2 separate regions of the Homo sapiens genome follow, and region 1 is linked to region 2. A link means that fine-mapping ties the variant in region 2 to the expression of a gene that starts in the linked region. Tissue or cell type: whole blood. Region 2 holds a variant in brackets; the other region holds the start of a gene. All regions are shown on one strand. Distances are between the middles of the regions.

What was found. PIP is the estimated chance that this variant, and not a neighbour inherited with it, causes the effect.
Region 1: it holds the start of ATRN, and the variant in region 2 is fine-mapped to the expression of ATRN in whole blood (TOPMed, PIP above 0.99).

The regions. Positions count from the first base shown.
Region 1 is chr20:3,466,889-3,474,991 of GRCh38, forward strand. It overlaps ATRN (attractin), which reads left to right and starts at 4,130. Exons shown (of 29, transcript NM_139321.3): 1 at 4,130-4,629. The coding sequence starts at 4,220. RefSeq lists an enhancer at 3,717-3,856 and a silencer at 3,957-4,516.
Region 2 is chr20:3,613,198-3,621,300 of GRCh38, forward strand. The region is part of intron 24 of ATRN (attractin); the gene reads left to right. Among named protein-coding and RNA genes, the nearest start is that of GFRA4, 46 kb to the right of the region's middle. RefSeq lists a silencer at 7,797-7,996. The variant T/C (reference allele first, on the strand shown) is at 3,802.

The sequences.
Region 1 (8,103 bases), 150 kb before region 2:
TTGCTTCCTTCACTGTGTTTCTTCCGAGAGCAATCTTCCAATGAATTATGCACTCAGATCCTGTTTCAGGGTTCTGCTTCTAGGGAATCTGACCAAAGACACTGCATGAGTAAAAGCCAAAAATTATAAAATCCATCTATGTCCATGACTTGGAGACAATGCAAGCAAAGAAACAGGAAGAGATGACATGAAATCAGAGAAAGGGCCAAGGTGAGTAAGATGCCTTACTTAAGTGAAAAAGAATAGGCATAGGCACCTTCAAACCATCCTGCACTAACCTAGTGGAGACAAACCCTTTTGGTCATGCAGTTGGCAAGAACAATGTTATTTTAGTGTCTGGACTTAGAGTAATTTGTATCAAAGCCTGGGTATTCTTTGCCACTGGCATTACAGTTTCTGGGACCTGGAAATGACCACCATGACAAAGACCAGTGGAAAAAAAGGGATTTCAGGCAGAACTGCTGCAGAATCTTGCTGATAAGGCACTGGGGTACAACAGAGGCACTTCTGAAGCTACGGTGACTACGGTGACCTCCTTCATGAGAAGCAACTGGACAATGATACTAGTGTATTACATATAGATGACTAGTTGTAGATTATACATTTATATACAATTATACTGTCGTTCTTAATTCTTAATCAAGTCCACATCACAAGACTTATTCTTGTCCTTGGAGGAACCAGGGTACAGAGTATTCTGGTAATTTATTATTGTGTAACGAACTGTCCCCAGTTGGCTCATTTATTTGCTTATGTATCTGCAGTTTGGGGCGGGTTCAGCAGGAACAACACCCCCCTGCTTCATGATTGGGGCCCCAACTGGGAAGACTTGAATGGCTGGGGGCTGGCTTCCTCACAGCATGGTGGTCTCAGGGTAGCTGGACATCTTTTATGGCAAGTGTTCCAAGACACTTCAGGAGGAAGCTGCAAGACTTCTTATGACCTAGCATAAAGTCCCATTTCTGGGACCTCAGAAATCCCAGTACATCACTTCCACCATAGTCTATCAGTCAAGCAAATCACTAAGGCCAGGCTAGATTCAGAGTGGGGTGGGGGTGGGGGTGGGGGTGGGGCCGGGGCCAAGGGTTAGACCTGATCTCTCCATAGAAGGAATGTAAGAGAATTTGCAGCCATCTTTAATCTATCACACAGACATAGAATGTGTAGGGGACTTTTTGATAAACGCAGTAAAGGAAAAAGAAGATAGCAGGTAAGATTTTGTTTCTTTGTTTATTTGTTTTTAGAGACAGGGTCTTGATCTGTTGCCCAGGCTGGAGTGCAGTGGTCCAAACATAGCTTACTGCAGCCTCAAACTCCTGGGCTCTGTGATCCCCCTGCCCCAGCCTCCCAAGTAGCTGGGACTACACATGCACGCCACCACATCTGACTAATTTTTTAAAAAATTTTTTGTAGAGACAAGGTCTCACTATGTTGTCCAGGCTGGTCTCAAACTCCTGGCCTCAGGTGATCCTCCCACCTTGGCCTCCCAAAGCACTGGGATTACAGGCATGAGCCACTGCACCCAGCGTGTTTGTTTTTTAAGGACAAAATAATTTGAGCATGTTTGAAAGCTAAGGAAAAAGAACCAGAGAAGAGAGTAGATTAAGGAAGTAAGAAAGAATGTTTGCTGCAGCAAGATTCTAAGGCTTCAGAGTAGCAATATCTAGTCTAGGGATTGCTGTTCTTCAGATGCACACCTTTTCTGTTATCCCTGAATGTTGGTAAAATCATGTGAAACTTCACAGTGTGGGTTCAGTCTTGCTGTGGGGAGGGAAGGGAAGGAAAGGGCTGGTTCACTTCTGGCCTGGAAGATTAGGGGGAGCAATGTCTCCTACAGCTAGGGCATGGCCTATGCCAGCCTCCCCATCTGATGGGGTCCTGCCAGAGGGTAGGGCCATGTCTTCAATTTCAAAATCCTACATGGCAAAAACATAACCTGCAAACCAGAATGTCAGTGCTAGGGCCTAGGCCGAACAATAGTTTTCCTGTAGGAATGGGGAGTATGTGTGGATGTAGAGCTGGGGGTAAGGCTTTTGTGCAATTCAGCTTCACCAGGCTTGAAGAAGATGCAGTGAGGACAGTCAGGACCTGAGTATGAGAGTGGGACCTGGGTATGAGTGTGGAAATCCATCTTAGAACCTTAAAATTCCATACTCTGAGGTAAAGCTGAGAGGCTCCACAGGTCTATGAGGGTTTTTCTTTGTTTCCCAGGGACTGTAAGGTGCCCAGATTCTGAGGTAGGTGCCATAGGAATATTCCTCATAGCACAAGCATTATGTCGGACAATGTTCTGCTTATCTATTACTGAGTAACAAACCTCTCTAAAACTTAGAGGCTTAAAATAACATAAATCATAATTTATGAAAAATTATAAATAATTCATCACTTAAGGGTTAAATGATAAATGAGTTATTTCTTAGGATTTTGGATAAGTCACAGTTAGGAAAGACCTGTTACTGTTGTAGGTAACATGGAACAGCCCAGACGGTTGGAATAACCCAACCCAGATAGCTTCTTCACTCAATGACTGATCCCTTAGCTAGGATGGCTCCACCAGCTGAGCGGCCCAGCTCTCCCTCTCCAAGTCCAAGTGGTCTCTGCACATGGTTTCTCTCCAGCAAGGTGGCTAACGGGGTGCAGCTCATGACCACCAACAGCTCAAAATCAAGGCTGCCAGGTCTTTTTTTTTTTTTGAGACAGAGTCTCGCTCTGTCCCCCAGGCTGGAGTGCAGTGGCGCGATCACGACTCTCTGCAACCTCTGCCTCCTGGATTCAAGCGACTCTCCTGAGTAGCTGGGATTACAGGTGTGTGCCACCACGCCCGGCTAATTTTTGTATTTTTTGTAGAGACAGGGTTTCACCACGTCGATCAGGGTGGTCTCGAACTTCTGACCTCGTGATCTGCCCGCCTCGGCCTCCCAAGGTGCTGGGATTACAGACGTGAGCCACCGTGCCCGGCCAAGGCTGCCAGGTCTTTTTTAAGCTCAGAGCTAGAAACAAGACATTGCTACTCCTACCAACTTCTTCTATTGGTGAAATTGAGTCATGGTTTCTCATGGTCTCAATCATGACCCAGCCCAGATTCCAGGGTCAAGGACCATAAAAGGCTACATTGATGGAAGACATGTCTCATTGAGGGACACCAGAGTAACAACTACCAGACAAGAAGGGGCAGGTCTGTGTGAGCGCCATTTCCTAATTCTATATTGCCCACTCTTCAGAGAAGATGGTTGGAGGGCAAATTGTGGGGAGCAAGGTAACTCCAAACTTTTACAGAATTAAAGGTAGGGGGTCTGGTCAGCTACAGTCCATCTGTTATCAAGAGGCCTGGCTGTGTGTCTTCATTCAGTTTATTAGGCATTTACTGAGCACAGCCTACATGCCAGGTTCTTCATTTTTTGACACAGGGTCTTGTGTTGCCCAGGCTGGAGTGCAGTGCTGCGACTGCGGCTCACTGCAGCCTTGACCTCTCCAGACTCAAGCGATCCTCCTGCCTCAGCCTCTGGAGTAGCTGGGGATACAGGCGCGCACCACCATGCTCGGCTAATTTTTGTATTTTTAGTAGAGACAGTGTCTCACCCTGTTGGCCAGGCTGGTCTCGGATCCCAGAGATCAAGTGATCCGCCTGCCTCAGTTTCCCAAAGTGCTGGGATTACAGGCGTAAGCCTCCGCGCCCGGCCTATGCCAGGTTCTACATGTGTTCTTTCTTGACTCTTGTGTTACAGAGGCTCGAATGAAGCCTGGCTTCTACAGTACCGCACCCAGCACCTCGCTGCGATGCAGCCTCCTGTACCCTTTCCGTCCGGCAGCTGGAGTTAGGGCAGAGTGCCGGGTCTCTAGGAGGGCAACACTCAACGCAGTCGGCTCCTAGGCATCCAGTGGGGCTGCAACCCCGCCGCCGGGGACGAAAGGCGAAGGGGGAAAACTAGAGCTTTCGCCGGCCGGGACAGCGCAGCCGGGTTTCAGCTCGTTCTACGGTCCACGTCAGAAGATCGCCTCCGGCGCCGCGGACGCCGGAGACCACTGTCTGCGCCCCCGCACGCACGCACCCACGTACTCGCGCACGCGCGCGCCGGCCCCGCCCACCGCCCCGCTGTGGCCCCTTTGGACCGCACGAGCCACCGTCCGCACAGCCCCGCCCCGCACGGCCAGGCGAAGCGGAGCCGGCCGTGCGGTGTGTGTGTATGTGTTCGCGGGGCGCCGTCTCAGCCCCGGGAAGATGGTGGCTGCAGCGGCGGCAACTGAGGCAAGGCTGAGGAGGAGGACGGCGGCGACGGCAGCGCTCGCGGGCAGGAGCGGCGGGCCGCACTGGGACTGGGACGTGACCAGGGCTGGGAGGCCGGGGCTGGGGGCCGGGCTGCGCCTCCCGCGGCTGCTGTCTCCACCGCTGCGGCCACGGCTGCTGCTGCTGCTGTTGTTGCTCTCGCCGCCGCTGCTGCTGCTGCTGCTGCCCTGTGAGGCCGAGGCCGCGGCGGCGGCGGCGGCGGTGTCGGGCTCAGCCGCAGCCGAGGCCAAGGAATGTGACCGGCCCTGTGTCAACGGCGGTCGCTGCAACCCTGGCACCGGCCAGTGCGTCTGCCCCGCCGGCTGGGTGGGCGAGCAATGCCAGCACTGCGGGGGCCGCTTCAGGTGAGTGGCGGGTGGTGTCGGAGGGTCGGGTCCAACCAGAGGCTGGGGCTGAGGGGCGTTCGAGACGGCTCCAGGTCAGAGGGAGATGCTGGACAGAAAGTGGAGAGGGTAGGGCCGCCCTATGGGGTTTGAGGGCCATTTGCTTCCGGGGAGATCATCGTCTCTGGCCTGGGGTCTTTCTCTGTTGGAAGGTGAAAAGGTGTGGGGCAAGGGTGGGGGCACCCCGACGGTATTTGGGTGCTTAGGTTAGTTAGATGGGAAGAATGCTGAGGGACCCAAAGAGCATCAAAGCCGATCGCTCTAAAACTCGGCGTGTTTCAGCTAAACGAGGTATCCAAGGAAAGGTGGTCGAGCCAGGTTTGCTTGAACACTTCCTTTTAACATCCACATGTGCCCTAGGACCCGATGAGTTCCCCGATGCACTGGAGATGTGGGGTGCTCTGAAGAAACAGGGCCCTGGAAATGCTTTGTTGGCTGGAGATAAAAGGGAAAGGGTAGCATTGTAAGATATTAGGGATAGAAGGACCAGTGGTCCTTCTAAAGGAAAGTGAGGAAACTAGCCTTTTGGCAAAAGCTCCCTGGAGGTGGCAAATTGGAATAGGGTCTGTGGTGAAGAGGGAATGGAAGGAGATTCCTATTTGCCTTGGTTTCTGGACAATATGAAGTTCTGAATTGGCTTAGTTTGGGGCAGTTCCTCTTGGAGAAATCAATAAATTAATTAGCAGTTATCGTTATTTGCTTCAGTTGTGCAATGATTTTCCAGATAATACAGACAGATTAGCCAGACTTTGGCCTTGTCCACAGGGAGTTTGGAATATAGCAAGAGAAAGATAATGTGCGCACATAACCCTAGTCATAAGGGTTACAGAGTCATTCACGCCTTTGACAGGTATTTAGCTTACTGAACACATGTCTGATGTGGGGGAGTGGGGAAATGTGAACAAGACAGACAGGGCCTCTGCTCTCATTGACCTTAACATTCTAGTGGGAGCAACAGGCACTTAACAAGTAAATAAATGAGAGAAATAAACATGGTAATTTCAGGTAATGGTAAATGCTATCAAGAAAATAAAAACAGCGTGGTCTGATAGAGAATTATAACCGGTGGTGACTCTTGGAGAGGGTTCTCATTTGAAATGACATTTGATCTGAGACCTGAATGAGGCAACAGGGAACTTGTGGGAATTCAGGGATGGAGAGGTTGTGGCTAGCTGGAGGGATGCAAGGAGGACTTTGAGGAGGCGGTAACATTGGATTTGAGCATGTAAGGTTAAGTAGGATTTGGAAATGTGGAGCTGGAAAAAAATTACAGATGGAAAGAAGGGTGCAAACAAAGTTGTGGAGGCTGGAAAGTAAAGTTTTGCTGCTGCCTATGTGGAAGAGAGTTGTGAGAGAGGAGTTTGGAATAGCAAAATTGTAGACTTAGGTAATATTAGGTCTTCTGAGGAACTCAGAGAACGTTGAGCAGATGAGCTCTTTAGTTTTATGGATGGAGAAACCAAGTTACTTCAGGACCACTGATGCAGTGAAGCTGCTTTTGTAACTTAGGGTGTTCTGATTTATGAATTCCATTAACCTACATGTATTTGTTGAGGGCTCCTATGTTTTAGGTTGTGAGATACAGTGGTATACAAGACAGGCACAGTCCTGCTCTTACGGAGCTCACATTTCAGCTTGGGAGTAAAAAAATCCAACAAAAATTTTATTGTAATTTTGTTTAAGGCTGTGGAGGTAAAGAGCAGGAGACAAACAGAGGACTTGACTTAGTCTAGGGGTAAGGTAAGTCACTGAGGAAGCGATGTGAAGTCTGAGGGGTGAGATGGTACTACCTGCGTGAGGGGTGGGGTGCTGAGGGGCCAGCAGGTACAGAGGCTTGGGGTTGAAGCGGATGGAAGGCCAGGTGGCAGGAGCAGAGAGAGCAAAGGGGAGCTTGGCAAGACTGGAGAGAAAGGCGGGAAGCCAGGCCAAGTGGAGATCTGTGGGTTGGATTGAGAATTTTGACCTTTAGCCCAAGAGCTGTGAAATGGCGTAGTTCACGCCTATTTTCATGACATTATAGGCTTTTAGATTGGAGCCAGAATACAAATGGCCTTGAAGGTGAGGCCAGGGCATTTTCCATTTGAGAAGCTTCCAAGGTCAGGTGAATGGATGGTTGAGTCAGACGAGGATCCTTCAAGTTCTGAAAACCTGGGACACTGTGGTAGGCAGTGGGGACCAGCGGTGTGGGAAGGGGACTTCATAGCAAGATCAATCTGTAATGTTCAGAGTAGGTACACTCACTTTGGGCATGAGAGATAGGGGGCAGCTAGGTGGGATCTGTTGGCATGGGTCAGAGCAGTGGTAATGAGAGCTTGTAGAGGTGAAATGGACAAGTCTTCCGTGTAAACTGGTTTGCTCTTGGAAAGGTGGGGGATGGTGAGGGAAAGAAAACTAGATCCTGTCTTGGGTGGTTGAGAGGACAGTGATACCATTAACAGACACAGGGACACAGGAGCAGGTGTTAGACATTTAATTGCATGCATGCTGAGTTTGGGGTGCTCTCAGAGTACACACCTGGCAGATGTTAAGTTTGGAGTCATCGACCTATGAGGGAGATTGCCAGGGAGCTCTCTCTGAGAGTCCACATGGAAAGCCCAGAGGATTGGATAAGAGCTACTTGTTGCAGGGAACAGGCAGTCCTGACACTGGTTGTCTCAAATAGTGTCACAGGTGAGTGAAGGGACTCCCCTGCTTATTGTGGACATTCCCTTTGAGCTGATTCTAGGTGATGTCAGTGCTGTTTCCTGGGTAGACAATTATGACTTTGGTCCTGATGATACCATTATATTTTGTGGGCTTTGGGATTTTGCATTTTTAAAAATGAAAGTAGGAGGAACTTATGACTCTGGTCTTTTAAAAAAAACTCAGTAGGCCAGGCGTGGTGGCTAACACCTGTAATCCCAGCACTTTGGGAGGCCGAGGCGGTGTATCACGAGGTCAGGAGATCGAGACCATCCTGGCTAACTTGGTGAAACCCCGTCTCCACTAAAAATACAAAAAATTAGCCGGGCGTGGTGGCGGGCACCTGTAGTCCCAGCTACTCGGGAGGCTGAGGCAGGAGAATGGCGTGAACCCGGGAGGCAGAGCTTGCAGTGAGCCGAGATCGCACCACTGCACTCCAGCCTGGGTGACAGAGCGAGAGTCCATCTCAAAACAACAACAACAACAACAAAAACTCAATAAAATTTTAGTCGAGGCCAAGCGCGGTGACTCACGCCTGTAATCCCAGCACTTTGGGAGGCTGAGGCGGGCAGATCAAGAGGTTAGGAGTTGAGACCAGCCTGGCCAACATAGTGAATCCCCGTCTCTACTAAAAATACAAAAAATTACCTGGGCATGGTGGCAGGCGCCTGTGATCCCAGCTACTCGGGAGGCTGAGGCAGGAGAATTGCTTGAACCCGGGAAGCGGAGGTTGCAGAGAGCCGAGATTGCGCC
Region 2 (8,103 bases):
ACCATTTAGTTTGCCAAGCTTTCCTTGAAAACGCAGGTAAGTTCTATTGCAAACGTGTCTTTTTGCTGTTTGGTACAAATGACTGCACTATTCACTGTGACTAGGCCCGTGTCACCGTGTGTTCTCAGTCCTCGCATGAGAGCCTGGTTGACACTGGTTCTCTCTGCTTTGGGGACCGTATCTGGCTGTGCGCTATGTGGAGGGCTGAGCTCGTGTCTTCCTGGGTAAATACATCATGTTCTCAACAAGGGCTGCATGTTTCTTTATTGCTGTTTTTTCCCCAGAGACTTAGCTTTTCTAGGTGTGTAGCATGGCTCTTAAATACACACATTTAGCAACTGTGCAAATTCAGTAAAAATGGAGAGACTTATTTAAGGAAGACAGTAGGGAAATGTCTAAATAGTGCAGTGTAGGCCATTCAGTTAAATTTCAGTATGGCTTTCGATGCAGGCAAAGCCGTTTTGCCTTTGATTCTCATTTTTTAAATTAGATTTTAAAAATTGAGATTCTCCTTTTTTAAATGAGATTTTAAAAATTGAGATTCTCCTTTTTTAAATGAGATTTTAAAAATTGAGATTCTCCTTTTTTAAATGAGATTTTAAAAATTGAGATTCTCCTTTTTTAAATGAGATTTTAAAAATTGAGATTCTCATTTTTTAAATGAGATTTTAAAAATTGAGATTCTCATTTTTTTAAAGCAAAGTAACTGAGGAAATCTAATTCTCTAGTTGGAAATTTGTGTAAGCATTGGGGCTTTAAAAATGGTAATACTAAACTCAAGTTCCTTCACTCTGAACCAATCCCAGGATTCTTTTCCATAATTAGGAACAGATCAAAACCTATAACTGCTGAGGGAATTTGAAACTGACTATAAAAATCTTTGTAGATGCAGCTAAAAAACAAACAAAACCCACAGACTGAAAAGTCCTGTTTCTGGGAGGGTGGCGGGTGTGTTGGGGCCGGTTGTGCCTGTTTTTTGATTGGTTGTTCCTGTGGGTGAGCACCCTTCCCTCTGCCCCTGCTTTCTGAAAGCTATCCTAGTTGTTCTCCCCAGTAAGCCGGGGCTCAGCCGGCTTCAGCTATGTCCATAGTTTGGGGGCGTGGGCGGTAGGTATTCAAGATAGAAGATGGTTGGACAGAAAGTGTGTGAGGTGGGAAGGTGGAGTGGTGAGGCTCTGGCTCGTTCCCGACTCTGCAACAGAGGTTGTTACTGTAATGTGGAGCTAATATAGAAGTCTGCGTGCTGGGTGTTTCATCTACTGTTTTATGTAAGAGGCCAGTGTTCACAAGTAAAGGCAACACAGAATTGGTATTGAGAACTGGGCATTCATTTAGATTTTAGAGTTCTGTTTATGGGTGCTAACAGGATCGCTATACTGAGCAAGGGATGTGTGAAACTTTTGTTCACTTGGATGTGCTTTTTTTCTTATAACAGCTTTATTGAGACATCATTTACATACCATACAGTTCGCTCATTTAAAGTACACAATTCAGTGGTTTTCAGTGTATTCACAGAAGCGTGCAGCCACCCGTCACTACAGCCAATTTTAGAATATTTTCACCACTTCCAGAAGAAGCCCCTAGCAGTCAGTCCTCATTCCCCCCTCTTCCGGCAACCCCCAGTCTGTATTTCCTGTCTCTGTGGATTTGCCTATTCTGGACATTTTATATAAATTGAGTCACATGATATGCTCTCACTTAGCATACTGTTTTCAAGGTTCACCCGTGTTTAGTATGTTTCAGTACTTATTCCTTGTCATAGCTGAATAATCTTCCTTATATGTATATACCACGTTTTGTTTATCCATTTTTCTATCGATGGATGCTTGGGTGGTTTTCACTCTTTGGCTATTATGAATAGTGTCAGATATACTTTTAATGTTTATATTTATTGTATAATAACAGTGCATATCCGTACCTCCTGGTGTTAATTGTCTGTATCTTAAGAGTTTTAAGAATTATATGGTTGTGCTGTAATTCTAGCACTTAGGGAGGCCGAGGCGGGCAGATCGCTTTAGCTCAGGAGTTTGAGACCAGGCTGGGCAACATAGTAAAACCCTGTCTCTACTAAAGTACAAAAAATTAGCTGGGCGTGGTGAAGTGTTCCTGTAGTCCCAGCTACTTGCAAGGCTGAGGCACAAGAATCACTTGAACCCAGGAGGCAGATGTTGCAGCGAGCCAAGATTGCACCACTGTACTGCAGCCTGAGCGACAGAGCAAGACTCCTGTCTCCAAAAAAAAAAAAAATTTTTCTTTATGATGAAACCCACAAGGCTGTACAAGAACCTTAAATATAGTTTGAAACAAAGAAAGACACATGCTTTTAAGTACAGTTTAATTCTTTTCTTTTTTCTTTTTTCTTTTTTTTTTTTTTTGGAGACAGAGTCTCACTCTGTCGCCCAGGCTGGAGTACAGTGGTGCAATCTTGGCTCGCTGCAACATCTGCCTCCTGGGTTCAAGTGATTCTCGTGCCTCAGCCTTGCGAGTAGCTGGGACTACAGGAACACTTCACCACGCCCAGCTAATTTTTTGTATTTTAGTAGAGACAGGGTTTTACCATGTTGCCCCCATCATTCTCAGCAAACTATCGCAAGGACAAAAAACTGAACACCGCTTGTTCTCATTCATAGGTGCAAACTGAACAATGAGGACGCATGGACACAGGAAGGGGAACATCACACACCAGGGCCTGTTGTGGGGTGGGGGGAAGGGGAAGGGATAGCATTAGGGGATATACCTAATGTTAAATGACGAGTTAATGGGTGCAGCACACCAACATGGCATATGTATACATATGTAACAAACCTGCATGTTGTGCACATGTACCCTAAAACTTAAAGTATAATTAAAAAAAAAAAAAAGAAAAATGTGTTATTCCTTTGTCTCGAAAGTCCCCTGCTTTTCAGCTTTCGCTTTGGTTGTCTCTTGTCAGCTCTTTAATGCTATTGTTCCCTTGGGTTTCATCTGGACTCTTTTTCCCTGGGCAATCTCATCCACACCATCTGGGAACATTGCCTTTGGCTGGACAGGTAAATCTTTGTCTCTAGCAGACTTCTCTCCTGTGATCTCCAGAGCCAGGAACCCACTAGACTTCCTTAAAATTCATTCAGCCAGCAGACTTTCTGGCCCAGAGCAGCAGCTGTGAGTGGACAGCAGGCACCTCGTTAGAAGCTCGGTGTTGGAGGTGTGCCCATGCATTCCTGGGAGCCATGAGAGGGGAGGGGAGTGCCCTGTGTCACCTGAGTCCAAGTTAAGAGAGATCACACCAGAGCTGATTCCTAAGGAGCATGGGGGCGGGGGAAGGGGGTGTTCGTGGTGGGGAAAGGAAATGACCAGCCCTTTCAGGAACTACCAGGAGTTTAGCAGAGCTGGTGACAGTGCTATGAGCAAGAAGGTGGAGAGCTGGGGAGGGCCATTATGAAGAGACTGGAGATTGCAGGCTGTGAACTTGAGTCCTGATGTGACTGGGAATTGTTGAGATGTTTTAGGCCGAAAAGTCACCGACGATCAGTGTTTAGAAAGACCCCACTGGCAGCAGTTGGGAGTGTGGATTGGAAGGAGCCAGGCCTAAGTCCTGGGAGGACTTAGGAGGTCCAGGAGTCCAGGGAGTCCAGGTGGAATTCTTGTGTAGAAACCCAGGGAAGGGGACCATCTGATGACACACATCCCATAGCAACTTCCTTTCCTCCTCTGCACCTCCACAGCAGAGTGTCTGTTTCCACTATACGAAGATTTCTTAATGGCAAGGATCGCATTTTTATCCCTCAGTGTCCTCAGTGTCATGTGCTAATCAGTTGGAGA[T/C]ACTCCCTAAATGTATGCCAGATGAGTATATAGTTGTTAGTATAAGGGCTTTACGGTAGGTATCAGAACTTTTTCTTTTTTACAACTTTTATAACTTTTATAAAGGAGCCGACACCTTTTTCTGATATTGTCAGAACAATTGCTGACCAGTGCTATGGGCTGGCTGAGGTTGGCAACCAAGAATCTGTTATCTCAGTCTACACAGCGTGGAGTTAGAAGATTGGATTGTTGTTGGTTAGAATTTTGTCCAGAGAGTTAGAAGATAGAAGAAAAGGGAGGGCTGAGGACATAAACATCCAAATTTTACAAAGAAGAAAGTTCAGTGCTCCTGTCAATATTGAAATAGTTAAGAGGGAAATGATTGGGTCTGGGGAATGCTTCAAAATAATATGATCATAGGGAAAGTAAGTGTAGTGTGGATGAAACAAGGTTGGCCTTGAGCTGATAATTTACTAAAGCAGGATGATGAGCGTGTGAGGTTCATTATAGTGCTCTTTCTACTTTTTAAAAAGCTTAAGATTTTCCAAAATGAAAAAGAAGCTGAGCATGGTAGCTCATGTCTGTAATCCCAGCACTTTGAGAGCCTGAGACGGAAGGATCACTTGAAGCCAGGAGTTCGAGACCAGCCTGGGCAATATAGTGAGACCCCCATCCCTACTAAAAAAGAAAAAAAATTACACAATGAAAAGAATAATACAGGTGGTAGAAGAAGAAATAAAGGTATGAGTATATGATTTGGCCTCCTACAGACAGCTACAGGAGCATGCCTCTGCTGGGCGGGCCTGGAGCATAGTGCACCCTGGAGCTGAAGTTCTGTTCGCCTTTACAGGAAGTACACAGCATTGTACGGGGGTTTTACCAGTTAACAGTGGACAGTCTCTAGAACACTCAGGGGTCAGGGGCAAAACTCCCTCTCCCTCAAACCAGCCCACCTGTCTTGGTGAGAATGGAAAACGGAGCTTCCCAGCAAGCCTCCTGCCTTCACCCCGACGCACAGGTGCATCAGGGTCTGAGGGCTCCTCCCTGTGGGGCCTGGGAAGCCGCCCTTCAGTGGGCTATGGCTGCATTGTCTTCTGATCTTGTAGCTGTGTGTGGGTAACAGGCACATCGTCTCCCCATATCCCAGAGAGTCATGTCCACTTCCTATCTGTGGTGGCATCTTTCCATCACTGTCACCCTCAGGATAATGGCACAGGAACTAACAGAGGCACTAAGAGCAGTGATATATACTGGAGGGAGGGGCGGGGCTGATGACCAAAATCACCTTCTGTTTCAGTAAGAGGTTGGTTAAAGTGATGCCTAAAATGGATAGATCAGGAAATAACAATAAAAACATTAATGATAAAAAGGCAACTGCCAGAAGAACTGAAAAGTAACCTAGTTCAAGGTGGGGGTCCCTGGAGAGAAGCCTTCAGAAGAGCAGAGGAAGAGCAGGGAACATTGCTTTTCATGACTAGCCTTTCAGTACCTTTTGATATTTCAGCTAAGTATGTAGTTCTCTAATGATTTCTAAATTGTTAATGAGTGTGATAGAATAGGAATTCTGGAGAATGGTCAAAAGGAATTGCTAGGAGAAAATTAGGGAAAGAAAGCACAGAGCAGTATTGAGGTGGGAGGTTGGGAGCAGACAGATGGTGAGTGTTCGTTTGCATGGCAGGAATGAGTGGCTGAATGGCATTAACTGGCCATGGGGCTCTGACCAGAGCTTGGGTATACAGTTTCTGTGCCAGCACAAACCAGCATTAGGTGCGTGGTGTGTGAGGCCGGGTGATGGTCATATGGATCTGGTCCAGAGCTGTGGTCTTGACATAGAGTTCCATGTATGAACTTTGGTGGTGGTGGTGGTTTTGTTTCGTTTTTTAAGAAAAAAGGAAGAGTTGTTTTATGTCACAGCCAAACTCAAGGAGGTGACAGCACAAGACCCAGGTTAGAATGTACTTAGCCAGGGCTCACGGAATCTTCCATCCTTTGCAAAGCCAAGAAGAGTAGAGGCCTCAAGGAGAATAGAGGAGCACATGGGCTCCTTCTGGGCTGAGCTCTCACCCTTGGTGGGGCCGCTGGTCCCAGGGGGTCGTTGGGAGCCTGCGGAGATTCTGCCCAGTACATACATACCTTGCGTTTTCTCGGAGCCTGACAGGTGCTGCCTTGAAGCGGAAAGACTTCACCTCACAGGGTGGCCAGCTGTCCTTTCTCTTCCTCTCCCTGTCTTGTGTGCTCATGATAATGGATAGATAGACATCTCCATGGTAGAAATAATGCAGCCCTTTCTGCAGTCCATGGTTCCACAGCATATGGTCAGTAGACTTAGATGAGTGCTACATAAAGTGTAATTAGTTCTGCACCACGGTGTCTTACCTTCTGAAAAGGAAACTCTGGTATTGACTTAGAAATGCCAGTTTTATCCTTCCGACCAGAACGCAAGTCCTGAATGAGGCCAGAGGCCAATGAAAGGTCCTTTCTTCTCTCTTTTCAAATCTGCTGTATTAAACAGTGACTTTTCCTAGTCATTCAGTATTCATTCATTCATCCATTTATTCAAGTTTTTGAGTACCTTCTTTGTGGATGGCACATAGTAGATGCAAAAATACAATCATTTTTAAAATGGAAAGCATTTGTTATGTGGTAGTGGAATATAAGAAATGCCATGCTTCCATATTTTTATGGTAATCTTGGACTCAGGTTCTACCCACCATACTTAATTAGAAATTCATTCTCAGCCTCTGTTTTGGCAGAGACCCATTCTCTTCCCTCAGGAACATACAGAAACCTCAGGGCTGAACTGAGCTCAGAGGTTGGGGAAGGTCCCCTGGTCTGATCTTCAGTCGCTGACTGCTGCGCCCGATTCCCTGGCCCCTCACTCTTGAGGGCAGCATCCTCACTCTTGTGTGGCACAGGCTTGGACATAGAATGACACTTAAGCACCAGAGCCTCCCTAGCCTGCCACAAGGACACCCTACATTCCCAGGCACTTTCAGAATGCAAAACCTCCCCTCCATTCCCTCCCTTTCCCTGCCTCCAGGTTTGGGCCCTGCCTCTCCTTTTGTTTCAAAGCACTGTCCTCTCTTCCTCTACCCTTATCCTTCCCCATCTCCCTCCCACTCCCCAAAAGAGCCAAACTAATTATGGGGATTTAACCTTCCAATTAAAGGCGAGGATTTTTTTTTTTCAATGCAGTTCCTGAAATGCTAAAGAAATTGTCCAGGGAAAGGAGCACAGGAGGAGTTTTGTTTTGTTTTGTTTTGTTTTGTTTTGTTTTGTTTTGTTTTGAGACAGTCTCGCTCTGTCACCCAGGCTGGAGTGCAGTGGTGCGATCTTGGCTTACCGCAACCTCTCCACCTCCTGGGTTTGAGCAATTCTTGTGCCTCAGCCCCCCAAGTAGCTGGGATCACAGGTGCACACCACCACGCCAGCTAATTTTTGTATTTTTAGTAGAAATGGGGTTTTGCCATGTTGGCCAGGCTGGTTTCGACCTCCTGGCCTCAAGTGATCCACCCACCTCAGCCTCCCAAAGTACTGGGATTAGGCGTGAGCCACTGCATCCAGCCTGATGTTTAAATAATTTCTTACTTCAGAGTTTCCTGAAGTGTGGCCTATGGAGACTAGCATCAGAATCACTGGAGGAGCTTAAAGATATAGAGACAGGGATAGGGCCTGAGATTCTGACTTTGTTGTAAGCTATCCAGAGTTTGAGAGCCATGGCCTAGTTCTTGGAATACAAAAGTGTATCTGCTCTTGTATGGGAGGTAGGAAGTTACCTTTTCATTCATTCTTCTACAACAGTAATTTAAAAGTTAGGAATTGGTGTCTTCATAGACAGAAGAATGCAGGAATCCTCTTCTCAGGATGTCTGTCTTTACACAGCCATGGTATATGGTAGACCAAGTTTGTCCAACCCATGGCCCGCGGGCTACATGCAGCCCAGGACGGCTTTGAATGCAGCCCAACACAATTCATAAACTTTCTTAAAACATGATTTTTTTATTTTATTTTTTTTTAAGCTCATCAGCACTATCGTTAGTGTTAGTGTTAGTGTATTTTATGTGTGGCCAAAGACAATTCTTCCAGTGTGGCCTAGGGAAGCCAAAAGATTGGACACCCCTATATAGACCATAATTATCACACGCCCTGAGAGGGAAGCAGATCAATGGTGAGGGAGCGTAGAGGAGAGCCTGCCAGAGTTTCCAGTGGGGCCGGGGATGCTTAAAAACGGAGGCAGTGATGTGCTGAGCCAGAAAGGACAGGGAGGACCCCCATGCACACAGGCAGGGAGGCTCTCTGGTGACATCTGCCGTCAGGTACAGT